4 separate regions of the Homo sapiens genome follow, and regions 1, 2 and 3 are each linked to region 4. The links come from fine-mapping of genetic effects on gene expression. A gene starts in region 4. Each other region holds a variant in brackets. All regions are shown on one strand. Distances are between the middles of the regions. Region 1 has its middle 4.0 kb from the start of LINC02019. Region 2 overlaps DOCK3 (dedicator of cytokinesis 3). Region 3 overlaps DCAF1 (DDB1 and CUL4 associated factor 1). Region 4 holds the start of HEMK1 (HemK methyltransferase 1, mitochondrial release factors N(5)-glutamine).

Region 1 (7,626 bases), 96 kb after region 4:
CCCACCAGGCCCTACTTCCAACGTTGGGGATTACATTTCAACATGAGATTTGGCAGGGACAAATGTCAAAACCATTCAGTCATAGATGGACATGTAAGAGGGAGAGAGGCACCAAGGTGACTGCTAGAGTGTTGCCTTGGGCTGCTAGAGAGATGGAGGTGCTGTCTCTTAAGATGAGGAGACTGTATGTGGAGGGGATGGTTTGCAGCATTGGCCACTCTCATTTCAAGATACTATTAGACATTCAAGGTGTCACGAAGGCAGTTGAAATGATGAATCTTGTGGCACAGCTTTGGGAGACATCATGATTTATATGGGGTCCAAAGCCACAAGATCAGACAAGAGGAGAGAATGTGCAGAGAGATGAAAAGGGGACTCAATCCTGTGGCAGAGGTTGGGGAGACATGAAGGATCCAGAAAAGTAGACTGAGAGGGAGCAGCCGGCTAAGAGAAAAAACAAGAGGTATAGTTTATTGGAAGCTTCTAAAAGCAAGTATCATAAGAAAGGGATGGTCACGGCTGGGCGGGTGGCTCAGGCCTGTAATCCCAGCACTTTGGGAGGCTGAGGTGGGCGGATCACGAGGTCAGGAGATTGAGACCGTCCTGGCTAACACGGTGAAACCCCGTCTCTACGAAAAATACAAAAAATTAGCCAGGTGTGGTGGCACATGCCTGTAGTCCCAGCTAATCAGGAGTCCCGAGGCAGGAGAATCGCTTGAACCCGGGAGGCAGAGGTTGCAGTGAGCTGAGATCGTGCCACTGCACTCCAGCCTGGGAGACAGAGTGAGACTCTGTCTCAGAAAAAAAAAAAAGGGATGGTCACTGTGTTGAATGCTGTTGCACAGGAAAAGTAGGATGAAGACAGAGAAGCAATAATCAGATTTGCCACCACAGACATCCTTGGTGGCCTTGGCATGGACGTTTCAGTGGAACAACAGGGCTGGAAGCCCAAATGGGGAGAAATGGGAGCTGTAGATATGGAGGTAGAGACAGTGAGTGCAGTGAAGGGGAGTGGCAGCCTTTTTCCAGGCACCCCACGAGGAGCCTTGAGCTCTGGGCTTCTCCTCTGGCTGACCAGAGCCCTCAGGGGCCATAGAGAAAGATAAAAATGGGTCCTATGTTCTGGAAGTCAGGGCCTGGGTTGGCCAGAGTGGATGAGTAGATGAGCTAGGCTAGGAAGGATGAATCAGGTACAAGAATCCATGTTCAGTCCTGTCACAGCTCTCTATCACAAGAGCCTAGCTTTGAAAACTACTCCCTGCTCATTAGCAGGAAGGATGAGCTCCAAAGAGGGTGGGCTCCAGAGTACAGGGTTGCCAGTGCTGCCCAGCTCCATGTCCCGTCTCTGTGTATTATTCTCTGAGAAAGTGATACGGCTGTACACAGGTAAATGTGTCAGAGAAGCAACACATAATCATTGGGAAATTGCAGAAAGGAGGAAAGGGTCTCTTCTTGGTATATTTTACTCTGGTTTGTATCTGCACGTGATTGTTCTTGCATAATTATAACCACACTGTGAACAGAGTTTTGGGCCTGATTGTTTTTTGCTGAATGTGACACACTAGACATTCTTTTTGTTGATAGATTGATTTCATGGTTGTTATTGGTTGCATACAATTGCATGGGGTAATGTCCCATGTTCAATAACTTCATCCCCTACTGGTAGTCATTTGGATTATTTCCAATATTTATAGACAATGTTACATTGGATATCTATAGAAATGAAACTTATCTCAATCCATTTTCACAGAACTAACATTTTTTGGGGGAAGTTCTTGATACCCACTTGCCACAGTGCTGGTGGGAGGGTCACCTGGACCCACCCTACTTCAAATAAGTAGCCTACTATTACACTAACTGCTTGCACACAGTCATTAATTTTTTTTTTTTTTTTTGAGATAGAGTCTCGCTCTGTCGCCCAGGCTGGAATGCAGTGGCGCAATCTTGGCTCACTGCAAGCTCCGCCTCCTGGATTCATGCCATTCTCCTGCTTCAGCCTTCTGAGTAGCTGGGACTACAGGCGCCCGCCACCACGCCCGACTAACTTTTTGTATTTTTAGTAGAGACTGGGTTTCACCGTGTTAGCAAGGATGGTCTTGATCTCCTGACCTCGTGATCTGCCCACCTTGGTCTCCCAAAGTGCTGTGATTACGGGCTTGAGCCATCGTGCCCGGCCCATTAAAATTTTTTTATTTGGGCCAGGCACGGTGGCTCACGCCTATAATCCCAGCACTTTGGGAGGCCGAGGCGGGTGAATCACTTGAGGTGAGGAGTTCGAGACCAGCCTGGCCAACATGGTGAAGCCCTGTCTCTACTAAGTAAATAGAAAAATTAGCCAGGTGTGGTGGCACGTGCCTGTAATCCCAGGTGCTCAGGAGGCTGAGGCAGAGAATTGCCTGAACCTGGGAGGCAGACACTGCAGTGAGCTGACATCGCACCACTGCATCCATCCTGGGCGACAGAGTGAGACTCCATCTCAAAAAAAAAAAAAAAAAAAAAAAGGCCAGGTGTGGTGGCTCACGCCTGTAATCCTAGCACTTTGGGAGGCAGAGGCAGGTGGATCACGAGTTCAGGAGATCGAGACCAACCTGGCTAACATGATGAAACTTCGTCTCTACTAAAAAAAAAAAAATACAAAAAATTAGCCGGGTGTGGTGGCAGGCGCCTGTAGAGCTACTTGGGAGGCTGAGGCAGGAGAATGGCATGAACCCAGGAGGCGGAGCTTGCAGTGAGCACCAACACGGTGAAACTCTATCTCTACTAAAAAAAAATACAAAAAATTAGCCGGGCATGGTGGCAGGCGCCTGTAGTCCCAGCTTCTTGGGAGGCTGAGGCAGGAGAATGGCATGAACCCAGGAGGCGGAGCTTGCAGTGAGCTGAGATTGCGCCACTGCACTCCAGCCTGGGTGACAGGGTGACAGAGTGAGACTCTGTCTAAAAAAAAAAAAAAGAAAAATTTTTTATATGATAGGCCAAAGAAGGGGTCTTCTTGGCCTGGCGTGGTGGCTCAAGCCTGTAATCCCAGCACTTTGGGAGGCAGAGGCAGGTGGATCATGAGGTCAGGTTTGGGACCAGTCTGGCCAACATAGTGAAGGCCTGTCTCTACTAAAAATACAAAAAATTAGCCAGGTTTGGTGGTGTGTCCCTGTAATCCCAGCTACTTGGGAGGCTGTGGCAGGAAAATTGCGTGAACCCGGGAGGCAGAGGTTGCAATGAGCTGAGATTGTGCCACTACACTCCAGCCTGGTGACAGAGCGAGACTCCATCTTAAAAAAAAAGAAAAGAAAAGAAAAGAAAAGAGAAGGGGTCTTCTTGTGGCTTCAATTTGTCTTTCTTTGGTAGTTAAAGAAGATGTTCATTTTCCTATCTTTTCATTTACTATTCTATTTCTCCTCACGGGAGGAAGCAGTTTCCATCAGGTGACCCAAATTTGTACCTTTCCCCGTGGGCTCTCTGAATGGCTCATCAGCCCTGCTAGGGCTGTTCTCACCAGCTAGAATGATGCAAGGTCAAATCTCTGTGTCCTCCTACATTGTCTCCACGCCTTCAGCCGGTCTTCATGGTTGCACTCTTCCTTCTAAATGCCTCATAGCAGCCTCCTGGCCTGCCCCACAGACTCCTCTAAGCCAACATTGACTATCCCCAGCCACTTCCCCTGGACCCTGAAGAGCCTTCAGAAAATATACTTTGACCCACTGACTAGTTTAGTCTCTACTGACTACTCAGAATTCTTCATAGTCTGCCTCCACCCACCTGCCACCCTGCCCCCACCCCCAAGGAAGTCTTGGGCTCTGGTCACACTGGCCTCGTCATTGCATCCCACTCATCTTGCTCTTCCTGCCTCTGTGCTTTGGTTCATGATACCACCCCCGAGAGTCATATCCACTTAAACTCATCCTCTGAGACCTTGCCTCCTCAGCCGAGCCTTCCCAGATTTTTCCAATCCACTCAGCCTCCCCTGCCTCTGAACAGCTGAAGCATTTATAGTCTATAGGGGCTCTCTGACAGGGTCACCAATAAGTAGTCCTCTTTCCCTCATCCAAGTTCTGAACAATGGAGAGATAAAAACTCAGATGGAGGCCAAAGCATTATCTTCTTTATTGAAGAAGGCTTAAAGGAGGAAGTGGCTTAGTGTGAAGTCACATGGGTCTGTGCTGGGCTGACTTTCCCCCTTCCCCTAGTCTCACTTGTTTTGGGTAAGTGAGGCCCCACACATCCCGGCCAGTGGAGACCGACACATAGAAGAAAGCATCGGAATGGGAAATCTGCCCCCCTCCTCACAGTTCATACCCCAGGAGCAAATGCTAAATACTGTCTTGAATTAACAGAGTTACTATGGGTTGGCCGGGCACGGTGGCTCATGCCTCTAATCCCAGCACTTTAGGAGGCCGAGGCGGGTGGATCATGAGGTCAGGAGATCAAGACCATCCTGGCTAACACGCTGAAACCCCGTCTCCACTAAAAAATACAAAAAACAGCTGGGCATGGTGGCGGGCGCCTGTAGTCCCAGCCACTTGGGAGGCTGAGACAGGAGAATGGTGTGAACCTGGGAGGCGGGACTTACAGTAAGCTGAGATCGTGCCACTGCGCTCCAGCCTGGGTGACAGAGCTAAACTCCGTCTCAAAAAAAAAAAAAAAAAAATAGAGTTACTATGGGTTTTGTTGCTTCAACTATGCTGGACCAACTATATGAGGTCCTTAAAGCCCAAGGTATGTGCAGCTTCTTATCTTCAAAGTGCCTTGGAGTAGGTGAAGAGGACTCCCTCTTAGCAAGCCCTTCCTTCTCCATGCACACTCACCCCAGTTAAGTCTAAAATTCTGTTCTGAGGACCTCATTTCCCTATGGACGCTGGTCTGAGTGTGCAGGCAGAACCATGGGAGCAAGCAGGGATATAACCAGTAATATTCACTCAGGTCTCAGTCAGGAGGGTGGCAGGGCCTTTCCCGAGGGCAGTCTTCCATGGGGGTGCAGGGCATGAAGGCACAATTGCCTTTGGTGCCTCTGTACTAAGATCAAGGAGAGAGTCAAACAAGAGGTTGGGATGGCATAGACATGTTTTGCTTAACTCACAATT[G/A]TGTCACAAGCCTCCTTTGGGCTTTTACTGGACTGATGATAAGTGATTGGATTATCCAAGACATGGGGATTAATTATTTTGGGCTGGACAGAAGAGTCCATGGACAGAGCTAGGTTACAAACTCCACTGCTCCACTGGCTGTTGCTTTCTGGAGGAATGTGAACTCTCATACAATTTGGAACCCACCTGGTAATGCCTGGATTCCAGAGCTGTGGGTGCACACACATCATTGCACCGTGTAGAATTAGAAAAAGATTTATCTAAAAATAACTACTGAGGAATATCTAATTTGATAGCAAGACTATGACTAATCCATGAAACAGACAGTCTGTGTGACAAGACACAGTACAATAATGGGGAGAAATTCATGTTTGACCTTTAAGCAAGTGCAAAATGAAACAGATCTATGCCTTGGCAGCTGAGGACCCTGTGGCTCTAGGGAGAGTGGCTGTGAGCAGGGGGTTTGATGGTCATGGAGGAGAACTGATGCAATATGTAGTTCTCAGGGGTGCTGCATCATGGAAATAGCTTAGGGAAATCAATTTCTTTTGGTGTTAAATAGAGAGAAGAGGCTCATGCTGAGTTAAGTGCTGGCTGGTAAGAGGCAGACGCAGGAGGCCAGCCCAGCTGCGCAGGGGTGACCAAACCAGCTCTCGCAGGCTAGCTTGGAGGAGAAGCAGATTCCACAAATGCAAGGAGACCCAGCATTTCTGGGAAGCAATTTGAGCTGGTAGGAGGGGAGCAAGGTTCCAAAGTTTAGTGAGCATTTACCTTGTGCCGGGCTCTGTGTTGAGAACTTTGCAGGCATTATCCTCAGAAGCATCCCTGATGTAGAAGCCATTCTGATTCCCACCTGACAGGAAGAAACTCGGTTCAGAGGGATTAAGCTACTTGCCTGGGGTCACCCAGCTAGGAAGTATCTATCTGGAGCTGGATGTGAACCCAGCTCTGACTCCAGAGCTCTCAAGTTCTATTCCCTGTTGCTAGGTCACCTGAAACTTGAAAAAGCCTGAGGCTGTCAGTGGGCTGGAGTGACAGACTGGGGCTGGGACAGGCTGGGTGCAAGTGAGGTTTTGGCAGGGGCCACCCCATGATGAGTTCTCATGAAAAATTGCCATGGCTCCTGGAATGGCAGGTTTCTGAATCAGGATCACTTCTCTGATTGTTCCATAACTCATAACTGCATATTATAAATTCTGATCCATCACCCTCAATGCTAATTGGAGAACAGAATAGTCCCCATTTCTTAGAGTTGCTCTTCTTCAGTGGTGACAGAGTGAGTACTATTCCTGCTGCTCCCTGGGTCAGGGCCCTGCATGTTCCGAGTACAAGTCCTAAGGTGTGATCTTGTGAGAGAATTCTCTAAAGATTTCTCTTTTTTGGCATCCTGTATTAAATGTTCCTCAAGGAAGAGATTAGCAGTAATCCTTGATCAGATTCAGGGCCAATTGCTTGTTGGTGCCCCTGGCAACATTCTTTCCCTGGACCCTTAGCATGGGCAGGGGTGTGAGGGACAAGCAAGGTGTTGAGACCACAGCTAAAGCAGTGGGTCACAGAACCTGGAGAGTGGGCTGTGTAGGGAGGTAAGCTGTGCTTCCCCTCCAAACCCGGGAGATGAGCGCTGGAGCCTGGCACAGATGTGCCATCTTGAGAACAAAGGAAAGATTGGCTCAAGGAGGAGAAAGAAGCCTGGAGTGGTCCTGTGTGAGCAGTGGTCCTAGATGCTTCTGCACAGACTTTGTTGGTGCTCAGAGAATTGGGGAATGTGCAGTGGTGCCTCTGAGCCCAGGACTCAAGAGGATAGGCCTTTTCCTAGGCTGTTCCCTCAACAAGCCCAGGATCTCCTTGAGGGGAGATCATGTTCTTATTCATGTCTCTTATCTCTGCTTCTGACCCAAGGTCTGTCAATGGCTGGTTCCCTAATGTCATGGGACGTGGCAAGGCCCCAGCGGCTGCCCCTATCTTCCACTCTAGTCCGCACATTTCTCCCCACTCCCCACTTGCTCGCTCACACATCATGTCCTGGTCACACTGGCCTTTCCATTCCTTGGATACGTTAAGCTCCTTCTTCACCAGATTCACCTTTCCCAAATGCTGCTTGCTCTGTCTAGAACACTTTTCTCTTCTTTACTTGGCTAATTTGTATGTATTGTCAGCCTCCAGTTTAAATATCATTTCCTCCAGGAAGTCTTCCCTATTTGCAAACTAGGTCAGAATCCCTGGCTGAGGCTCCCTCTGTACATGTACCCTTTCTCTTTCTCTTCTTTCCTAGTACTTGTATCTCTCTTCGTTTTTTTTTTTTTTTTTTTTTTTTTTTGATGGTGTTTTGCTCTGTCACTCACGCTGGAGTGCAGTGGTGGTGCAGTCTTTGCTCACTGCAACCTCTGCCTCTGTCTCCCGGGTTCAAGTGATTCTACTGCTTCAGTCTACCGAGTAGCTGGGACTACAGGCACCCACCACCACACCTGGCTAATTTTTGTATTTTTAGTAGAGACAGGGTTTCGCCATGTTGGCCAGGCTGGTCTCGACCTCTTGGCCTCAAATGATCTGC
Region 2 (7,626 bases), 540 kb after region 4:
AGATGGAGCCAGAAGAACATTTCCCACTGACATCCCGACATTGGGAAGATGGTTGCACTCCTAGCACATCTTCAGAGGGAAGACATTGCAAGCAAATGGAGGGAAGACATAGAGGCTGGATTGAAGGGGGAAGAAGCTGGGAATTCTGCATGGGGCTACCATGCACCAGGATTCATTCCTGACCTTCAGCAACTCCTGCAGAGGGGGTGAGTTGAACAGACAAGGAACAATCTGCTCTTGCCACAGGCCCCACAAATCCTGGCAGGGAGAGATCCCTCAACCACCACAGACACTTATGTTGACAGGGAAAGCTGCTTAGAGAAGTAGTAGGGGCAGAACTCTGGTCAGGGTGGAGCCCAGAGGGTTTGGTGTGGGAGCATCTGTAGTGGAGCATGGCCAGAGATGCCTCTCCCGCTAGGCTTCACTTGCTCCAATAGGAGACTTTAGCCCCTAGAGGAACTGTCTGACCTGAACTCTGCAAGGTGATCTGGCCCATGAGATAGAGCCGGGTCAGACCTGAGCACCCCTCAGTTGGCTAGCCTCTCCCAGGGCCCCAGCCTGGCTGTGCCTGCATCAGTGCAGCCCTCAGGTAATTTGTGGGTACCCACATCATAGCTCCTGCACTGGCAGGCCACGCTTGGTCGGCAGAGAGCTCCAGCATAGCAGCCCCCACTGACAGGCTGCAGCCCACCCACACCCTTCCTCCACTGCAGCCTCCCCATGCCACTTTGCCTGCACACACGTCACCATGGCCGCTCTCTATATCACTTTGCAGGCATGTGTGTGTGTGCGTGCACCCTGCCATGCCACACCTGCCTACATGAGTGTCCTTGCCCTTGCTTCCCCCTGCCACACCGCCATTGTTTTCAGAATGTTGGTGGGCTCCTTTCCTCACCAGTGCCTTGCCCCTGCACCAGGGGTGCTGGCATAAAACTAGGCATGGAAAATAGTGGACTTGCCCCTAGCCCTGAGCAGCCACTGCTGCCGGCATCAACGCATACAGTGGATACACACAGTCCTGCTCCCACCAGTACCCTGCCCCCGTGCTAACACCACCATTGTGCAAATGTGAGCATAGTCACTAATAGGAGGGGGTGCCCCCCCCAGCCATACTTCAAATGCTTGAATGGAAGCTGGCACCTCAGTACCCACTAGCACCCTGCCCCAGCAGACAAGTGTGCTCCCCACTGCATTGCCGCTGCCATTGGCACATGAAAACAAGATCCCGCTGCCACCACCATATGAAGTACTTTGGTTGGCACCACCCAGCAGAGTGTTGTGACCAGCAGTCCCAGAGCACCTTGACCCCTCCAGTGCAGCAGATTCCTAATCTCAAGCCAGATTTCAAAGCCAAGCTTGATATCAGTTTCCAGAGTGAAACCAGACATTATAGAAGTCCTGAGCTGAGCCTTGGTCTCCTAAAATCTTCCAGTAATGAAGCTAGTTGACTGAACCCATCTTATATCACAATCAAACCCCCAAGGTCATTAAGTAGTATAAAAGGGAAAAAAAAACCATCCAAAGGATAGCAGGTTCAAATATTGAAGGAATATTAGCCCACAAAGATGAGAAAGAACCAGTGCAAGAACTCTGACAACTCAGAAAGCCAGAGTATCTTCTTTCCTCCAAACAATTGCAACAGTTCTCCAACAAGGGTTCTTAACTGGGCTGAGATGGCTGAAATGACAGAAATAGAATTCAGAATATGAATAGGAATGAAGATCATTGAGATTCAGAAGAACGTTGAAACACAATCTAAGGAAGCTAAGAATCACAGTAAAACAATACAGGAGCTGACAGACGAAATAGCCAGTATAGAAAAGAACATAACCAATCTGATAGAGCTGAAAAACACTCTAGAAGAAGTATTAACAGCAGAATAGACCAAGCTGAGGAGAGAATCTCAGAGCTTGAAGACTGGCTTTCTGAAATAAGACAGACAAGAATAAAGAAAAAAAGAATGAAAAGGAACAAACAAAACTTCCGATAAATATAGGATTATCAAGAGATTGAATCTGCAACTCACTGGCATCCCTGAAAGAGATCGGGAAAATGGAAAGAACTTGGAAAACGTATTTCATTATATCATCCATGAGAACTTCCCAACCTAGCTAGAGGGCCAACATTCAAATTCAGGAAATGCAGAAAACTCCCAGAAAATACTTCACAAGAGGATCATCCCCAGTACATGTAAGTCATCATATTCTTCAAGGTTGAAATGAAAGAAAAAATATTACAGGCAGCTAGAGAGAAAGGACAGCTCACCTACAAAGGGAAGCCCATCAAACAAATAGTGGACCTCTCAACAGAAACCCTACAAGCCAGAAGAGATTGAGGGCCAATATTCAACATTCTTTTTTTTTTTTTTTGAGACAGAGTCTTGCTGTGTTGTCCAGGCTGGAGTGCAGTGTCATGATCTTGGCTCACTGCAACCTCCACCTCCTGGGTTCAAGCAGTTCTCCTCAGCCTCCCAAGTAGCTGGGATTACAGGCACATGCCTGGCTAATTTTATGTTTCTAGTAGAGACAGGGTTTTGCCATGCTGGTATCATCATTCTTAAAAAAAGGAAATCTCAGCAAAGAATTTCATATCCAGCCAAACTAAGCTTCATAAGCAAAGGGGAAAGAAGATCCTTGTCAGGCAAGCAAATGCTGAGGAAATTAGTTACCACCAGACCTGCCTTACAAGAGCTTCTAAACGAAGCACTAAATATGGAAAGGAAAGACCATTGCCAACCACCACATACACACACTTAGGTACACAGACCAGTGACACTATAAAGCAGCCACACAAGTTAGCAAATAGCTTAAACAAATAAACACGAACACAGGATAAAATTTACACATTCACTACTAACCTTGGATGTAAATGGGCAAAATGCCCCAATTAAAAGGCACAGAGTAACAAGGTGGATAAAGAAGCAAGACCCAGTGGTATGCTGTCTTCAAGAGACCCATCTCACATTCATTGATACCCATAGGCTAAAAATAAAGGGATGGAGAAAAATCTACCAAGCAAATGGAAAACAGAAAAAAGCAGGGATTGCAATCCTGATTTCAGACAAAACAGATTTCACACCAACAAAGATCAAAAAGACAAAAGAGCATTATATAATGGTAAAGGGTTCAATTCAACAAGAAGACCTAACTATCCTAAATATATATGCGCTCAACACAGGAGCACTCAAATTCATAAAGCAAATTCTTAGAGACCTTCAAAGAAACTTAGACTCCCACACAACAATAGTGGGAGACTTCAACACCCCACTTACAGTGTTAGATCATCAAGGCAGAAAATTAGTGAAGATATGCAGGACCTGAACTCAACACTGGACCAAATGGATGTGATAGACATCTACAAAACTCCACCCCAAAACAACAGAATATACATTCTTATCTGCACATGGCACATACCCTAAAATTAACTACACCGTTAGACATAAAACAATCATCAGCAAATACAAAGCAAGCAAAGTCACATCAACCACTTTCTCAAACCACAGAGCAATAAAAATAGAATTCAAGAATAGGAAAATCTCTCAAAATCACACAATTACAGGGAAATTGGACAACTTGCTCCTGAATGACTTTTAGGTAAATAATGAAATTAAGGTGGAAATCAAGTTCTTTGAAACTAATGAGAACAAAGATACAACATATGAGGATCTCTGGAACACAGCTAAGACAGTGTTAAGAGGGAACTTTATTGCACTAAACACTCATATCAAAAAGCTAGAAAGATCTCTAACAACCTAACATCACAACTAAAAGAACTAGAAAAGCAAGAGCAAACCAACCTCAAAGCTAGCAGAAGATAACCAATACCAAAATCAGATCTGAAGTGAAGAAGATTGAGACACAAAAAAATTCAAAAGATCAATGAATCAAGATGATTTTTTGAAAAAAATAATAAAATAGTCCATTAGCTAGACTAATAAGAAAAGAGAGAAGACCCAGCCAGATGAAATGGCTCATGTCTGTAATCCCAGTACTTTGGGAGGCCAAGTCCAGAGGTCCAGGTGGACCACTGGAACCTGGGAATTTGAGACCAGCTTAGGCAACATGGCAAAACCCCATCTCTACAAAAAATACTAAAATTAGCCAGTCATGGTGGCACACACCTGTAGTCCCAGCTACTCGTGAGGCCAAAGTGGAAGGATTGCTTGGATCTGAGAGGTAGAGGTTACAGTAAGCCAAGATCATACCACTGCACTCAAGCCTGGGTAACAGAGTGAACTCTGTCTCAAAAAAAAAAAATTCAAATAAACACAATCTGAAATGACAAAGGGAATATTACCACTCACCGCATAGAAATACAGGTAACAACCAGAGAGTATTTTGAACACCTCTGTGCATGCAAACTAAAAAATTCAGAACAAATGGATAAATTCCTGGGTACATACACCCTCCCAAGACTGAACTAGGAAGAAATTGAATCCCTGAACAGACAAATGACAAACTCCAAAACTGAATCAGTAATAAATAGCCTACCAGCCAAATAAATAAATAAATAAATAAGCTCTAGACCAGACGGATTCACAGCCAAATTCTACAGATATACAAAGAAAAGCTGGTGCCATTCCTCTGAAACTATTCCCAAAAAATGAGAAGAGACTCCTCCCCAACTCATTCTATGAGGTCAGCATCATTCTGATACCAAAACCTGGCAGAGACACACCACCACCACCA[C/A]CAACAACAACAGACACTTCAGGCCATTATCCTTGATGAACATTGATGCAAAAATCCTCAACAAAATACTAGCAAACCAAATCCAACAGCACACCAAAAAGCTTATCCACTGTGATCAAGTAGGCTTTATCTCTGGTATGCAAGGTTGATTTCAACATACTCAGATGAATAAATGTGATTAAACACATAAATAGAACTAAAGATAAAAACCCCATGATTATCTCAATAGATGCGGAAAAGGCTTTCAAAAAAATTCAACATTTCTTCATGTTAAAAACTCTCAATGAACTAGATATTGGAGGAACATACCTCAAAATAATAAGAGCCATCTATGACAAACCCACAGCCAACCTCATACTGAATAGACAAAAGTTGGAAGCATTCCACTTGAAAACTGGCACAAGGATGTCCTCTCTCACCATTCATATTGAACAGATTGTTGGAAACCTGACCAGAGCAATTAGGGAGAACAAAGAATTAAAAGGCCTCTACGTAGGAAGAGAAGAAGTCAGTCTATCTCTGTTTTCAGATGACATGGTTCTATTCTAGAAAACCCCATAATCTCGGCCCAAAAGCTCCTTAAGCTGATAAACAACTTCAGCAAAGTTTCAGAATACAAAATCAGTGTACAAAAATCACTAGTATTCCTATACCCAACAACAGCTAAGCTGAGAGCCAAATCAGGAAGGTAGTCCCATTCACAATTGCCACACACAAAAATAAAGTATGTAGGAATACAGCTAATCAAGGAGGTGAGAGATCTCTACAATGAGAATTACAAAACACTGTTCAGAGAAATCAGAGATGACACAAACAAATGGAAAAACATTCCATGCTCATGGATAGGAAGAATCAGTATTGTTAGAATAGCCAAGGCAATCCTAAGCAAAATGGACAAAGCAGGAGACATCATGCTACTCTACTTTGTTGTTTTAAATACACTAACTTTAAAATATACTACAAGGCTGCAGTAACCAAAACAGCATAGTATTGGTACAAAAACAGACACATAGACCAGTGGAACAGAATAGAGAGACCAGAAATAAGGCTATACACCTACAACTATCTGCTCTTTGACAAAGCTGACAAAAATAAGCAATGGGGAAATGATTCCTTATTCAAGAAATGGTGCTGGGATACCTGCTTAACCATATGCAGAAGATTGAAACTGAACCCCTTCCTTATACCATATGTAAAAATCAACTCAAGATGGATTAAAGACTTAAATATAAAAACCCTGGAAGACAACCTAGGCAATACCATTGTGTACATGGGAACAGGCAAAGATTTCATGATGAAAACACCAAAAGCAATTGCAACAAAAGCAAAAATTGACAAATGGGATCTATTTAAAGAGCTTCTGCATGGGAAAAGAAACTATCAACAGAGTAAACAGACAACCTACAGAATAAGATAAAATTTTTGCAACCTGTGCACCCGACAAAGGTCTAATATCCATCTATAAGAAACTTAACACATTTACAAGAAAAAAACAACTTCAATATAAAGTAGGCAAAGGACATGTACAGTCACTTTTCAAAAAAAGACATACACGTGGCCAAGAAGCATATGAAAAATTCAGCATCACTGATCATTAGAGAAATGCAAATCAAAACCACAATGAGATACCATCTCACACCAGTCAGAATGGCTACTATTTAAAAGTAAAAAATAATAATAATAACAGATGGTGGTGAGGTTGTGGAGAAAAGGGAACACTTATACACTGTTGGTGGGAGTGTAAATTAGTTCAACCATTGTGGAAAGTAGTGTGGCAGTTCCTCAAAGACCTAAAAACAGAACTACCATTTGACTAAGCAATCCCATTACTGGGTACATACCCAGAGGAATATAAATCATTCTGTTATAAAGACACATGCATGCATATGTTCATTGTAGCACTAATAAATTTTTTGGAAAAAAGAATAGAGAAAAAATTATAAGTAAAAAAGCCAGACTCAAAAGGATACATATTGAATGATTTTGTTTATGTAAAGTTCAAGAATAGGCAAACCTGAACTATAGTCATGGTTGGTAGTATTCACTAGAAAGATCACAACAGAACCTTTTAGATGGTGGAATTAATTCTGCATCATGATATGCCATGGTGATTCCCTAAGCAAAAATTCATCAAGTTGTATACTTAGATTTGTGCCTATTGCCATATGTAAACTGTACTTTGGTACATTAAGAGAGAAAAAGAAAGATGGCATAGTTTGCAACCTGGATAGTGGAAGTGACAATAAAGATAAAAGGACACATTCAAGAGACTTGTTTTTAGAGGTATGTGAAGTGGGAGGGGCGACTGTTGAGTGTATGTAGAAGCCATTAGCCACAGGAGGGTATGCAAAAGGAGTGGACAGGTTTTAAACCAGGAGTTCTTAATCTTAAATGCACATACAATTAAAGTTTTTAATATCCTGGCCACTCTACAGATTAATTAAAACAGGATTTCTCAGATGATTTCAATGTGTAGGAAAGGTGAAGAACTAGTGCCTGTGACAGCTGAGCTCAAGGACTCTGTTGGATTTTGGGTAGAGCTGCTACATCTAAAAGGTATTAAGAGGGTATTATAAGTAATTTGTTACTAATACAGTGCTGATTTGAAAAACATTTACTTCTTATAAATTTGAGTGGATTTGAGATTATATCTATAATATTCTTCTTGTTTATTTATTCAAAACACATTGTATGCCCACCATATATAAGATATTGTTCCAGCTGCTGGGGATTCAGCATAAAACAAGACAGAGAAAATCCCTGTATTCTTGTAGTTTATGTTCTAGAGGGGGAGATAGAGGATAAATATATATATATATAACTGGCATGAGGTAAATTCTTCAAAGAAAATGAAGCAATGAGAATCACAGAAATAGGGCATGGCACTTTTTAAAGTAGGGCAGTTAGGCATGACCTCTCTAAAGAGGTGACACTGACT
Region 3 (7,626 bases), 930 kb after region 4:
ATCCAGCAATAAGCACTCACATCTATGATCAATTTTCAACAAGGGTACCAAGACCATTCAATAGGAAAAAAGTAATTTCAATAAGTAGTGCTGCCCAGGTGCAGTGGCTCATGCCTGTAATCCCTGCACTTTGGGAGGCCAAGACAGGCAGATAACTTGAGCAGGAGTTCGAGACCAGACTGGCCAACATTGTGAAACCCCATCTCTACTAAAATACAAAAATTAGCCAGGCATGGTGGCGCGCCTGTAACCCCAGCTACTCAGGGGGGCTGAGGCAGGAGAACTGCTTGAATCCAGGAGGCGGAGGTTGCAGTGAGCTGAGACAGCGCCACTGCCCTCCAGCCTGGGCGACAGAGCAAGACTCCATCTCAAAAAACAAACAAACAAAAAAGTACTGATGAGACTTGGCACAGTGGCTCACGCCTGTTATCCCAGCACTGTGGGAGGCCGAGGTGGGCAGATCACGAGGTCAGGAGATCAAGACCATCCTAGCCAACATGGTGAAACCCCATCTCTACTAAAATACAAGAAATTGGCCAGGTGTGGTGGCACACACTGGTAGTCCCAGCTACTCGGGGGGGCTGAGGGAGGGGAATCGCTTGAACCTGCGGGAGGCGGAAGTTGCAGTGAGCCGAGACTGCACCACTGCACTCTAGCCTGGTGACAGAGCAAGACCCGTCTCAAAAAAAAAAAAAAAGTAGTGAGACAATTGGATATTATCCCACAAAACAGCGAAGTTGGATCTTTGCCTCACAGTATATGCGAAAATGGGCCGAGTGCTGTGGCTCATGCCTATAATCCCAATACTTTAGGCAGATCATCTGAGGTCAGGAGTTTGAGACGAGTATGGCCAACAAGTTGAAACCCCATCTCTACTAAAAATACAAAAAAGAGCTGGGCATGGTGGCAGGTACCTGTAATCCCAGCTACTCGGGAGGTTGAGGCAGGAGAATCACTTGAACTCGGAGGGGACGGAGGTTGCAGTCAGCCGAGATTACCCCAATGCACACCGGCCTGGGCAAAAGGAGTGAGACTTTGTCTTAAAAACAAAAAAAAGGCCAAGAAACGCATGAAAGATACTCAACATCAGTCACTAGGAACTGCAAATCAAAACCATAATGAGATATCATTTCTCACCTACTAACATGACTGTAGTTTAAGAAATGAGAAAATATAAGCATTAGCAAGCATGTGAAGAAACTGGAACACATATTGCTTGTAGAAATGTAAAAGGGTGGCCCCGGGCGCGGTGGCTCATGCTTGCAATCTCAGCACTTTGGGAGGCCGAGGCAGGCGGATCGCGAGGTCAGGAGACAGAGACCATCCTGGCTAACATGGTGAAACCCCATCTCTACTAAAAATACAAAAAATTAGCTGGGCGTGGTGGCAGGCACCAGTAGTCCCACCTACTCGGGAGACTGAGGCAGGAGAATGGCGTGAACCCGGGAGGTGGAGCTTGCAGTGAGCCGAGATCGCGCCACTGCACTCCATCCTGGGTGACAGAGCAAGACTCCCTCTCAAAAAAATAAATAAATAAATAAAAGAAATGTAAAAGGGTATAGTAGTTATAAAAAACAGTTTGGGACTCTCTCAAAAAGTTGCAGGTTTTTTTTTTTAAGTCACATGTAGAATTACTATACGACCCAGCAATTTCACTACTAGATATATACCCAAAAGAACTGAAAACAAGGCTGGGTGTGGTGGCTCACACCTCTAATCCCAGCACTTTGGGAGGCCAAGGCGGGCAGATCTCCTGAGGTCGGGAGTTTAAGACCAGCCTGACCAACATGGAGAAACCCCATCTCTACTAAAAATACAAAATTAACCAGGCATGGTGGCACATGCCTGTAATCCTAGCTACTGGGGAGGCTGAGGCAGGAGAACCGCTTGAACTCAGAAGGCAGAGGTTGAAGTGAGCCAAGATTACGCCATTGCACTCCAGCCTGGGCAATGAGCGCAAAACTCCATCTCAGGGGAAAAAAAAAAGGAATTCAAACAAAGACTTATACACAAATGTTCTTGGTAGCATTATTCACAATAGCCAAAAAGTAGAAACAACCCAAAAGTCCATCATCAGATGAAGAGATAAACAAAATGTGGTATATGCATACAATGGAATATTCAGTCATAGAAATGAATGAAGTAGTAACATGCTACAGATGTGGAAAAACCTTGAAAACAATAAGAAAGCAGACACAAAAGGGCACATATTGTATGATTCTATTTATATAAAACATTGAAGGCTGGGCATGGTGGCTCACACCTGTAACCCCAGCACTTTGGGAGGCCAAGGCGGGTGGATCATGAGGTCAACAGTTCGAGACCAGCCTGGCCAACATGGTGAAACCCCCGTCTCTACTGAAAGTACAAAAATTAGCCGGGCGTGGTGGCATGCGCCTGTAGTCCTAGCTACTCAGGAGGCTGAGGCAGAAGCATCGCTTGAACCTGGGAGGCGGAGGTTGCAGTGAGCCAAGATTGCGCCACTGCACTCCAGCCTGGGCGACAGAGCGAGATTCCGTCTCAAAAAAAAAAAAAAAGTTGAAATAGGTAAATCAATATACAGAAAGCTAACTAGTAGTTGCCAAGGACTTGAGGAAAGGGGAAAATGGGCAGTGACTGCTAAATGGGTATGAGGTTTCCTTTTTTTTTTTTTTTTGAGATGGAGTCTCACTCTGTCGCCCAGAGACTGGAGTGCAGTGGCAGGATCTCGGCTCACTGCAAGCTCCGCCTCCCGGGTTCATGCCATTCTCCTGCTTCAGCCTCCCGAGTAGCTGGGACTACAGGCACCGGCCACCACACCCGGCTACTTTTTTGTATTTGTAGTACAGACGGGGTTTCACCGTGTTACCCAGGATGGTCTCAATCTCCTGACCTCGTGATCCACCCGCCTCAGCCTCCCAAAGTGCTGGGATTACAGGTGTGAGCCACCGCGCCCGGCCGAGGTTTCCTTTTAAGGTGATAAAAATATTCTAGAACTAGAAAGAGATAATGGTTGCACAACACTGTGAATCTACAAACGCCACTGATTTGTACACTTCAAAATGGGTAGTCGTTAATTTTATGCTACGTAAATTTACCACAATTTTTTAATGAGAAAAGAAATGATCCAGAAGAGACTGCTTCTTAGATAACTTAAGCAGTTAGCCTACTAGAGCACATAAAGACATGATTTTTTAAAAAACACTACCTCTAATAAAGATTAATTCAAGGGCATTAAAACACTAAAATTTTATATTTTTAAAATTTTTTAATTTTTATTATTTTGTAGAGACAGGGTCTCACTATGTTACCCAGGCTGGTCTCAAATTGCTGGGCTCAAGCAATCCTCTCCACTTGGCCTTCCAAAGTGCTAGGATTGTAGACATGAGCCACCATGCCTGGCCTAAAACACTAAAATTTTAGAGTTCAACTTAGAAACATATACATATATACTTCTGGTATCATTTTCAGAACTTCCAACTAATCTATGCCTGAAGATAATTATAACTTTGGGAATAACCATTTGCCCAAGGAAAATATAAACCTTAGTGAGACCTTGTCTCTATTATTTAAAAAAATAAAAAATAGGCCAGGCGTGGTGGCTCACGCCTGTAATCCCTGCACTTTGGGAGGCCAATGC[G/A]GGTGTATCATCTGAGGTCAGGAGCTCGAGACCAGCCTGGCCAACATGATGAAACCCTGTCTCTACTAAAAATACAAAAAATTAGCCGGACGTGGCAGCAGGCGCCTGCAATCCCAGCCACTCGGGAGGCTGAGGCAGGAGAATCGCTTGAACCCGGGAGGCAGAAGTTGCAGTGAGCCGAGATTGCACCACTGCACTCCAGCCTGGGCGACAAGAGCAAAACTCCATCTCAAAAAAAATATTAAGAATAATAAAGAATAAAAAAATATAAAGGCAAGGCGTGGTGGCTCACACTTGTAATCCCAGCACTTTGGAAGGCTGAGGTAGGAGGATCACTTGAGCCCAGGGGTTTGAGACCAGCCTGGGTAACAGTAAGACCTTGTCTTTATTATTTAAATACATAAATAAAGGAAAATATAAACTTGTAACAGACTAAATAAAGGAAAATATAAACTTGTAACAGACTTAACTAATAATAGCAATGTGAATTAACATAGTATCAATGAAAGCAGTCAGCAACTGAGTGTGGTGGCTCACACCTGTAATCCCAGCACTTTGGAAAACCTAGGTGGGCAGATCGCTTGAGCCCAGGAGTTTGAGACCAGCCTGGACAACATGGTGAAATCCTGCCTCTATGAAAAAAATTTAAAAATCAGTAGTAGTAGTACTTACTTCAATGTTCGTTTTTTTGTGTTTGTTTTTTGTTTTGTGAGACGGAATCTCGCTCTGCTGCCCAGGCGGGAGTGCAGGGACACAATCTTGGCTCACTGCAACCTGTAGTCCCAGCTACCTGGGGAGGCTGAAGCAAGAGAACTGCTTGAGCCTAGGAGGTGGAGGCTGCAGTGAGCCATAACTGCACCACTGTACTCCAGCCAGAGCAAAAGTGCGAGACCTTGTCTCAAGGAAAAAAAAAAAAGGCCGGGCACAGTGGCTCACACCTGTAATCTCAGCACTTTAGGAGGCCAAGGCAGGCAGATCACCTGAGGTTGGGAGTTCGAGACCAGCCTGACTAATATGGAGAAACCCTGTCTCTACTAAAAATACAAAATTAGGCCGGGCGCAGTGGCTCACGCCTGTAATCCCAGCACCTTGGGAGGCCGAGGCCGGCAGATCACAAGGTCAGGAGTTCGAGACCACCTGGCCAACATGGTGAAACCGCATCTCTACTAAAAATACCAACAAAATTAGCCAGGCATGGTGGCACACGCCTGTAATCCCAGCTGCTCCGGAGGCTGAGGCAGCAGAATCGCTTGAACCCAGGAGACAGAGGTTGCAGTGAGCCGAGATCGCGCCACTGCACTCCAGCTTGCACAACAAGAGCAAAGAAAACAGTCATCTTCACCTTGTTATGCCCAAGACAATAAGGGTGCATTACTCAAGTTCTTAAGTGAGTTCCTTTAAGTGCTATGAAGAAATGATGGTCTGTCCAATGGTGACACGGTAGTTACCAATTAGTGAATATCTAGTATGGGACAGACATTGAGCTAAGTAATTTACCATACTTACATTATTCTGAATTTTCACAACCATCCTACCCTTTTTCACACATGAGGAAACTAGCTCAGAGAGGTCCCCAAGACCAGCTAGTACTAGGTAGAAAAAAGGTTTCAAGGATTCAAATCCCAACTCTGCTGACATACCTGTGAAGTCTTGGTTATTTAACTTCTCCAAATCTCAATTTCCTTATCTGCAAGATGGAAACAGTTGTTGTGCGGGGTTAAATGACAATATTGTCCCCATGATGGGATAATATAAAGCCTCAAGAAATACTTATGTAAAATTTTCTTATCCTAACAAGCATCTGCTAGGGTATTTAGGGATGACAGGCCTGCAACTTATTTTCAAATGATTCCACAAAATATATATATAGATACCACACACACAAATAGAGAAAATATGGCATAATATTAACAACTGTTTGCCAGGCACTATGGCTCATGCCTGTAATCCTAGCACTTTGGGAGACTGAAGTGGGTGGATTACTTGAGGCCAAAAGTTCAAGACCAGCCTGGCCAACGCGGCAAATCCCCATCTCTACAAAAAATAAAAAAATTAGCCAGGCGTGGGGGCACACACCTGTAATCCCAGCTACTCCAGAGGCTGAGGCATGAGAATCGCTTGAACCTGGGAGGCAGAGGTTACAGTGGGCAAAGATCGCACCACTGCACTCCAGGCTAGGTGACACAGGAAGACTGTCTCAAAAAAAATAAAAATAGGCGGGCACGGTGGCTCACGCCTGTAATCCCAGCACTTTGGGAGGCCTAGGCGGTGGATCACGAGGTCAGGAGTTCATGACCAGCCGGACCAACATGGTGAAACCCCGTGTCTACTAAAAATACAAAAATTAGCTGGGCATGGTGGCACGCGCCTGTAGTCCCAGTTACTCGGGAGGCTGAGGCAGGAGAATCGCTTGAACCCGGGAGGTGGAGGTTGCAGTGAGCCGAGATTGCACCACTGCACTCCAGCCTGGGCAACAGAGCAAGACTCCGTCTCAAAAAAAAGAAAAAAAAATTTTTTTTAAATTGACAGGCACAGTGGCTCAAGCCTGTAATCCCAGCAATTTGGGAAGCCAAGTCGGAAGGATTGCTTGAGGTCAGCTGGGCAACATTTTGAGACACAGTCGACACAAATATTTAAAAATTAGCCAATCATGTTAGCCTGTGACTGCGGTCCTAGTTACTCAAGAGGCTGAGGCAGCAGGCTCCTTTGAGCCCAGGAGTTGTTGGAGGCTGCAATGAGTTATGATGACACTCGAGACCATCATGGCTAACACGGTGAAACCCTGTGTCTACTAAAAATACAAAAAATTAGCCGGGCGTGGTGGCAGGCACCAGTAATCCTAGCTACTTGGGAGGCTGAGGCACGAGAATGGCGTGAACCTGGGAGGCGGAGCTTGCAGTGAGCTGAGATCGCGCCACTGCACTCCAGCCTGGGCAACACAGTGAGACTCTGTCTCAAAAAAAAAAAAAAAAAAAAAAAAAAAAAAAAGCCAGCGCAGTGGCTTACATCTGTAATCCCAGCACTTTGGGAGGCCGAGGTGGGCAGATCACGAGGACAAGAGCTTGAGACCAGCCTGGCCAATATGCTGAAACCCCATCTCTACTATAAATACAAAAATTATCCGGGCGTGGTGGCGCGTGCCTGTAGTCCCAGCTACTCCGGAGGCTGAGGCAGGAGAATCACTTGAACCTGGGAGGCGGAGGTTGCAGTGAGACAAGATCGCGCCACTGCACTCTAGCTGGGGCAACAGAATGAGACGCTGTCTCAAAAAAAAAGAAAAAAGAAAAAAAAAAAAAAAAGAGTTATCACACCACTGCACTCCAGCCTAGGCTACAGGGCAAGATCCTGTATCTAAAAAAACAGGCCAGGTGTAGTGGCTCATGTCTGTAATTCCAACACTTCGGGAGGCTGACCAGGGAGGATCACTTGAGTTCAAAACCAGCCTGGGCAACATACTGAGACCACTGTCTCTATAAAAAATAAATGAATAAAAATAAAAAATTTTAAAACTGTATAATAGGCAGAACAGTAAAACACTGTACTCAGCAACTACGCAAGAGATACTAAGTACAAAATGATTTCCCTACATTCCCCAAATTCTCTATTATCTCTTTAACATCCAAAAATATATACCCACTCAAAAATGGGTAATGAATAAATGTTATATAGAAAACCCAAATGGTCACATCATTAAGAAAAATACTAAATAGATCCTAAAATCTAAATATACACATTTACATAAACATTAAAGGTAAACTCCAGTAAGCTGGAAAAAGAAAATGCAGGATGATATTACCAATTAACCTCTCATTCTGTACATTAACGATGCATTTTGAACAGGAAGATGCTACTAATATAAAAAATTAAGACATGTAAACTAATTAAAAGGCTTCATCAAAAAAACAGGGTAAGGAAAAACCAAGACCAACATGACATGGCCAAGGACGAGTCATTTGTGACTCAAAAATAGCTAAATACAAACACTCCAAAACTATTTCCTCAACAAA
Region 4 (7,626 bases):
GCCACCTGCACAGCCACCTCCTTGGATAAAGGGAGCCCCCTGCCTTCCTGGGTGCTAGAAAGGAAAGAATAAGAAACATGAGGCTAAGGACAGGGGCTCAGTAGTGAGATGAAGTCTCTCTAGGTTCTGAAAGCACTGGGGAGGTAAAGGTTTGAGGGCAAGAATGAGGGTAAGTTCAGGAGACATTAGGACACATACTTTACGTATCTACGGTGCCCCTGTTTTTGGGAACAAAAATGAAGCCCTGCATCCTCTGTCTGTGGGTGAGATGATCATAGTGATCAAACCTGGAAGATATGAAAGGCAGCGGGGATGTTTGAAAGAAAAAGTCTCCCTCCCCTGATCAAAAACTCCCCTCAACCTGCGTCCCCATATCCCCCACCTCCCCATATCCACCTCCTCATTCCCTGCCTCCCACATCCCTCATCCTGCTTGGGGGAAAAAATACCACAGCTTTTTCCTTTCCTGGAGGGAAACACTTGCCCAAGAGTCAGACAGGCCTGTCTTTGAAACCTAGCTCAGCTGCTTAACTAGTGATCCCTAGAAAGTCACTCCACCTCTCTGTGTCTCCGTTTTCCTGAGTCTAAGGTGGGGATATTGAGAACATCCCCACAGGGTCATGGGGTTACAGAAATGGCAGAACAAACAGGTGTCGAAGAAAGACTTAGCTCAGCACAACCCCCATCCACAGTAAGCATCCACTACATGTTAGATTTTCTCCCCATGGCCAACCCAGTCACAAAGGGGAGCCAAGGGAGCCCCTGGACCCAGTCCACTGTATGGTCCAGACTATGCTTGGAGTGTGGGTGGAGGCTGATGTGGAAAGACCAGAAGACAAGAAGGAGAGAGAGGCTCTGGTTCTCTGGCGGGGCTTCTCCGCAGGCTCTCGGGGACATTGGACTGCCCTCCCCACCCACCAACAATAGAGGGGCTGCTAGGGTCAAGGAGAAAGGCGAGGCAGGAATGGAGCTCCCAGTGTGGGTGCCTTCTCTTCCTTTACCCTCCTCCCCTGGAAGCAGAGGGTGAGAGATTTGCCCAGTGCAGAGGGCCCTGGTTAAGGTGGGGTGGGAAGAGGTGCCAGCCAAGCTGCAGATGGGACGGCCTAGGGAGAGGAGGGATACCTAGCTCGTGGGTGCATACATCCCCCTGTGCTGGTTCATGGGCATTAGTGGGGTTGCCTCCCTGTGCAGATGCATGGGCGTGTGTGAGATGTGTAAACACCTCTGATGGTCCCTGAGGAAGGGGCAAGGCTGGCAGAGGGTTATGGGGTAGAAAGGCTCATCCCTCTTTGCCTTCTCCCTCCAGCTAGGCTGGGCACATCTGGGCACATAGGAAGTCCCGGGTTCTTTTCTTGGCTTTGCAACTGATCCCGGGCGTGACCTTGGGCCAAACCCTTAACTCGTGCCCTGGGGCTCTGTTAACATCGCCTCCCAAAGGAGAGAAGAGGCCCTACTGACCACTTTCCAGGCCTGCCTCAGGGTCCAAAGGGGAAGGGAAGGAAACCGGGGTAAAAGGGGTCGGCACCGCGACCTTCGAGAACCCGCATGCTGTTCTCCACCAGGTCTCTCAGTCCTCCCTGCCCCAATCCCCATGCCCGCCTCCGCGACCCTGTGATGCCTCCCTTCTTGCACAGGAGCAGTGACCTCAGCACTTACTTAATCCTCTCCCGGCGCCGAGCTCAGTTGGAGAGGCTAGGGGTGGTAGTGACTGGCAGGAGGCCGGGGCGGGGGGAACCCCCAAGCCCGGCGTCTGGGGCTGCGGGTCCGACCCGAGATCCGCCCTCCCTGCAAGCCCCGAGCCGCTGGCCAGGCCCGCTACTGCGCACCAGCCGCATCCGCGAGCGCTGGCTCTGCCGGCCTGAGCTAGGGTGGGTAGGGCCGGGACCCACGGCGGAGGTGGGGCCGGGCCGAGCAGCCTCGGGGGATCCCCGAAGCTACAGCGCCTTGCCTCCCTGCACGCTCCGCGCCCCCGGCCTCCGATTGGCTGTCGGGCCTAGAGCCCGCCCAGAATTGGACCGTTCGCTTGTCGCTCGGGTCTGGCTCCACCCCCAGAGGGAGCCTAGAACCTGGTCGCAGTTTTTAGAGACTACCCTCACCCCGTGGCCTGCGCCGAAGTTGGGCGGAGGACAGTGGGTGGCCAGGCCCTTCCGGGCCAGAACTCGGGACCCCTGCCAGCTACCCGTGCCAGGACAGACTCAAGCCCCCAAAACGCGGATGGATGTACAGAGGAGACTTGGGGAGAGCACTGGACTGGGAGTCCTTGGGCCTGCACTGAACTCTGGCTGACTTTGTGACCTTGAAGAAACTGCTTTTCCCTTCCTGAACCTTGGCTTTCTACTCAGACGGGTCCTCTGGTGTGAGGGTTCTAGACGAAGATGGGGAATCTTCGTCTACAGAAGTTGAGAGTGGGGTGGATTTATTATTGGGCACCCCGACCCAGGCAAGTCTACATATACCCTCACAATAGCTTCCATCCACGGCATGATCAGCTCAGGGAAGGAGCCCTCAGATACTCCTGATCCGCCGGTTTTCAAAGTAGTTTATGGGAGTCACCGGGTAGCCTGGTACAAATGCAAACGCCCCTGTGTCTCCCGGTCTGGGAAGGAGGCAGGGAAACAGCATGTTTAATAGCAGTTTAAGGCCGGGCGTGGTGGCTCACTCCTGTAATCCCAGCACTTTGAGAGGCCGAGGCGATGGATCACCTGAAGTCAGGAGTTCGAGACCAGCCTGACCAACATGGTGAAACCCTGTCTCTATTAAAAATACAGAATTAGCCGGTCGTGTTGGCTCACGCCTGTAATCCCAGCTACTTGGGAGGCTGAGGCAGGAGAATGGCTTGAACCCGGAGGCCGAGGTTGCAGTGAGCAGAGATCGCGCCATTGTACTTCAGCCTGCGCAACAAGAGCAAAACTCCGTCTCAAAAAAAAAAAAAAAAAAAAAGAAAAAAAGAAAAAAAAAGTAGTTAACAGTGTTCTAGTTAACAGTACTTTCTGGTGGGGAGATGTTGACAAGACACACTTTGCGAGACGCTGCCGAGTATTTTATAGAAGGCGCAACTGAGGTCCAGAGGTCCCAACACCTGGAGGAGTTGCCAATAGAGTCAAGATTCGAATCGGTAAAAGAGCGGCCCCTGGGGTCTGGCCGCCAGTCGGCCGACCCCCTGGTGGGCTCGGGCCACTGACCTCGGTAGGGTCACGACACTGGGACTGGACCCCAAAGTTGGACCAGCCTTCAACACTGGAACCCGCCCATGCACAGCTCCACCCGGCCCCCAGGCTAAGATAGACCACGCCCCCGGACATCTGGTCCCCGCCGGAACACCCGGGCCCTCTGGTGACACGCCCCCTTTCCGGCAGGCTACTGGGCTCCGCCCACACACCTCCCGGCCTGGTTCCTAAACGCCAGCTCGGAGCAATCCCCTTGGGCTGGAGCCAAATCCCTGCTGTGATTTTAAGGAAGACCGGCAGGTCCGGGCCCCCAAGGGTCAACCCCACACACATCCCCGCACTTTCCTGTATGCAGGCCTGCGAGCGTAGAGGGAGTGGAATTCACAGCCTCCCCACCCATCCGCAGGGGTCTCCTGGGAGGAACCCACCAGCGATAGGAACACTGAAGCTGGGCTACGGCGTCCGCCCGAGCCTTTTCTTAAAGGCGCCGACCCCGGAAGCGGGGCGTCCGAGGGAGCGCGCGACGGGCCACGCACGTCCGGGCGTCCAGTTCGGGGCAGCTTCTCCGGCTGGTGGGTGGGTGGGGCAGCCTTTCAGGCAGGTATGCATGGGAGGTGGGGATCGGAACGGGGTGTTTCGACTGCAACCGCCTGGAGACCTGGCCGGTACCATTCTCCATAGTGCAGATGGGGAAACAGGGTTGGAGAGAGGGGGCCTCATCTGGGTCGTTAACAATGCGGTGCGTAGCTGTGAGGGAGTTTACACTTCTGACTTCGGGCCTTGGCTCCTGGGACGGCGCACTGGTGCAAGAGCCGCTTCTGGAGTCTGGTGGACTCGGGTTCGTGTCTTGCCTGGGACAGTCTTTTTTTTCTTTTTTTTGAGACGGAGTCTCTCTCTGGCACCCAGGCTGGAGTGCAGTGGCATGACCGCGGCTCGCTGCAACTTCCGCCTGCTTGAACTGGGTTCAAGCAGTTCTCCTGCCTCAGCCTCCCAAGTAGCTGGGACTACAGGTGCGCGTCAGTATGCCCGGCCAATTTTTTGTATTTTTAGTAGAGACAGGGTTTCACCATGCTGGCCAGGCTGGTCTCGAACTCCTGACCTCGTGATCCGCCCACCTCGGCCTCCCAGAGTGCTGGGATTACAGGCGTGAGCCACCGTGCCCAGCTTGCCTGGGACAGTTTCTACCTGAGTGACGCTGGGCAAGTCGCTTCCCTTCTCTGACCCTACTTGTATCTGAAGATGTGGCACTTAGCAGGTGCTTAATAAACGCTAGTTTGGACTTTTATCTGGAAGCAAAGGGGACCGCTGATTTTAAACCTTCAGTTAAACTTGCTTGTGACCTCTTTAAATATACAATTGTAAATTTTTTAGTTGGTGGTTTACGCTGATGTCCCGGATTATAGGTTAAATTAGGAGGAAATTTTCAGCATGTACATCCATGACAGTACACACACAATGTCAGATTCAAAGCTCCCAATTAAAGGCAATCATCTGCCTCTTGTAACATCAGTTAAGATCATGTAACATCTGGTCCCTGCTGTGTGTTGAGCTGCCTCCCAGGCCTTGGATATTCATAGACTAATGCATTGCTTGCCATGGGTTTGGTGTGATTTTCCCCCATCTTATGGATTAAGAAAGTGAAAATCAGAAATAATGACTTGCTCAAGATCACACACGCTAGGTTAGACACAGATCTGTCCTGTCCCCACATATGTGCCCTAACCTACCACCAACCCGTTTATTAGCAGAGACTGAGCTATGGGCTCAGCCCACTCCAGCTAAAAATGTGAAGAAAACGTAAGTGGCCAAGACAAGAATGATCAAATAGGTGGGTAAGGCTCTAAATGGAGTCAAGGGGGTGTCAGAGCAAGAGCACAACTATTCTCAGGCAATGTATTGGTAGAAGGGGGGGTGTCATACAAGGCTCACCTGCTTTCCTGGTTCCTCTCACTCCCAGGGTGGCAACCAACTATATCTGAGGACCAGAGCCATTTTGGGGCACCAGAGCTTGTGACCTCTCCATCTCCACCCAGCTGGGTCCAGGGGCCACTCTCAGCACTCACCTCAGCAGCTGACATCATAAAGCAGACTTGGGAACCTGGAAGCACTCTGGAGAACCTTTCCCTGAGACATGGAGCTTTGGGGCCGAATGCTGTGGGCCCTCCTGTCTGGCCCAGGGAGGAGGGGAAGTACCCGGGGCTGGGCCTTCAGCTCATGGCAACCCCAACCACCTCTGGCTGGGTTATCCAGTGCCATAGAACTGGTCAGCCACTGGACTGGGGTCTTTGAGAAGAGGGGTATCCCTGAGGCCCGGGAATCCAGTGAGTACATCGTGGCTCATGTCCTTGGAGCCAAAACAGTTAAGTTTAGTGTTGTCAAGAGGACAGGAAGAGGGAGGAGGGAGGACTTGGGGAAGGGATATCCAGGTTTTCTGTTCACTAAGAGTGCTTAGCTGAGACTGATGGGATTTTTCTGAAGGAACGTCTTAGCGCCTGGCACACACTGTAACAGTTTGTTGGATGAATGAATATATCTCTGCCTAAGTGTTCTGGGATAGACACCTGGAAGCCTGGTGTTAGCTGTGTAACCTTAGGCAGGATGCTGCCCCCTCTGGGCCCAGATGATGAGAGGGTTGGGCCTCCAGACCAGTGCTGGGCAGGCATTATCCACATAAGACACCTGGGTTGGGGGCCTTGGGCCCAGTGAGCCAGCCACTTATATTCTCTGTGGGGACAGTTTCAGAGCCTGAGGCCGGCACTTTGGACCCAGCCCTTGACCTCTCAGCAACTACAGTGTATCCGGGAGCTGAGTAGCCGTCGATTGCAGAGGTGAGCACCCATGGATCAGACCTGAAGGATGTGTTCAGGGAGCAGCAGTCCAGCCTCCCCTATCCCCACCAAGTTCAGGGAGGAGGAGAATGTCCAAGGACTAGGGAGGTGTTGGGGTGCAGGAGTGGCAAGAGTGGGGCCGGGGTACTGAATAGGAAGAAGGGAGGGAGGGAGGGTTTTGCCTCAGGAGTCCCAAGGCCCTGGAGACATGGTCTTGCCTGATACCTTTGGCCACAAGTGGTATCTCAACCCAGGCATGGTCCTGTTGGTCCTAGCTCTGTCCCTGATGACCACCCAGCTGCCCCCTCTGCAGGATGCCGGTGCAGTACATCCTTGGAGAGTGGGACTTCCAGGGGCTCAGCCTAAGGATGGTGCCCCCAGTGTTTATTCCTCGGCCAGAAACAGAGGTAGGTGTGCCACCAGGGCAAGGCAGGATCAGGATGATGGTGGAGTTCAGGGCACCAGTCTTACCCCAGGCTTCCTCCAGGGGGCACTGGGGCCCCATGACTTCAGGGACAGTGCCTTTCTAGACATGTATTTCCTCTCTGACTGTGTTGGCAGAGCCCAGAGGACAGAGGATTCCTGTTGGTCCCCTTGACTGTTATGTTCCAAGCTATCAACCCAGCCTCTAGGTCTGGCAATGGCCCAGAGTGCCTCAAATAGTGCTGCCCAAGTACTTAGCCTGTTCTGCCATTTCTCTGGGAGCCATCCCATGGCTCACCCAACCCACAGGGAACAAATGTCTTCCAGCAGCTTCTCAGGAGGCATGGAGGAAGTGGAGAGGGCTCCAGCCGGACACCTGGAGACCTGGTATCAGCTGTGCAACCTTGGGCAGGTCACTGCCCTCCTGCCATCTCTGGGCCCAGATGATGAGAGGGTTAGCCCTCCAGCCCAGAGAATCTGGTGGCCCTCTTAGGTCTACTGACTGGTCTGGTAATCACCTGTGTTGTCCCTCAAATTACTAGGACTAGGGATGTGTGGCGCAAGTGTGTTATCCCTTGGTAAGGCACCCTGGTCCTGGAAGAGACGCTTTATATGGCCCTTCTTGGACTCCCCTCTGACCTTGTAGATGACAGAGCTGGGAGCCAGAGGGCGCAGACCAGGGAGTAGAGCTGGGTGAGAGCTGGTGGGCAAGCCAGAGGGCGCCAGGTTCTGAGAAGGAGTGTTTCTAGAAAGACCTAGGCACACAAACATTTCTGGGAAAGGTTAGTTCCCATTCCCCTGCTGTGGCCAGGGGGCCCCAAACCCTTCTTTCACTTTCTCAGCTTCTGTCCCCTAGCCAAGAAACTCTCTGACCCCTCTCCTCTCCATATCATGTGGTTGGGAGGCCAGGTCCTTGCTTCACTGCCCAGTGTCAGGGCAGGGACAGTAGGGAATCTGAGGCCTTGCTGAAGTCACAGGGCTGTCAAGGAAGGGAGCATGGGGGCAGCACGTGGACTTCCTGACTCCCAGCTCAGAGCCCCATCCCTCACATGGGGCTGCCCCATCTGGGATTGGCATGACCTAGGACACAGTATGGAGACCCAGAGCAGGGTGTGGCCTGCCACCTGCAGACTTTGGGAGGCTTACCTGTGGCTCCTGAAAACACGTGATCTCTGGCGAAGAGATCATTTGCTGTCTCCGGCTTCCCAG

Evidence for each region. PIP is the estimated chance that this variant, and not a neighbour inherited with it, causes the effect.
Region 1: its variant is the best candidate, but not a certain one, in a credible set for the expression of HEMK1 in whole blood (INTERVAL, PIP 0.72).
Region 2: its variant is the best candidate, but not a certain one, in a credible set for the expression of HEMK1 in nasal epithelium (TOPMed, PIP 0.58).
Region 3: its variant is the best candidate, but not a certain one, in a credible set for the expression of HEMK1 in whole blood (TOPMed, PIP 0.51).

What each region holds. Positions count from the first base shown.
Region 1 is chr3:50,661,626-50,669,251 of GRCh38, forward strand. No RefSeq gene overlaps it. Among named protein-coding and RNA genes, the nearest start is that of LINC02019, 4.0 kb to the right of the region's middle. The variant G/A (reference allele first, on the strand shown) is at 5,076.
Region 2 is chr3:51,105,688-51,113,313 of GRCh38, forward strand. The region is part of intron 9 of DOCK3 (dedicator of cytokinesis 3); the gene reads left to right. Among named protein-coding and RNA genes, the nearest start is that of MANF, 280 kb to the right of the region's middle. The variant C/A (reference allele first, on the strand shown) is at 4,689.
Region 3 is chr3:51,491,475-51,499,100 of GRCh38, forward strand. It overlaps DCAF1 (DDB1 and CUL4 associated factor 1), which reads right to left. Exons shown (of 25, transcript NM_001387579.1): 2 at 5,260-5,306. Among named protein-coding and RNA genes, the nearest start is that of DCAF1, 4.7 kb to the right of the region's middle. The variant G/A (reference allele first, on the strand shown) is at 3,620.
Region 4 is chr3:50,565,808-50,573,433 of GRCh38, forward strand. HEMK1 (HemK methyltransferase 1, mitochondrial release factors N(5)-glutamine) reads left to right here and starts at 3,715. Exons shown (of 11, transcript NM_016173.5): 1 at 3,715-3,767; 2 at 5,124-5,525; 3 at 5,903-5,994; 4 at 6,308-6,401. The coding sequence starts at 5,298. It overlaps C3orf18 (chromosome 3 open reading frame 18), which reads right to left and starts at 1,940. Exons shown (of 6, transcript NM_016210.5): 1 at 1,656-1,940; 2 at 199-287; 3 at 1-54. RefSeq lists a silencer at 1,572-2,081 and an enhancer at 3,520-3,639.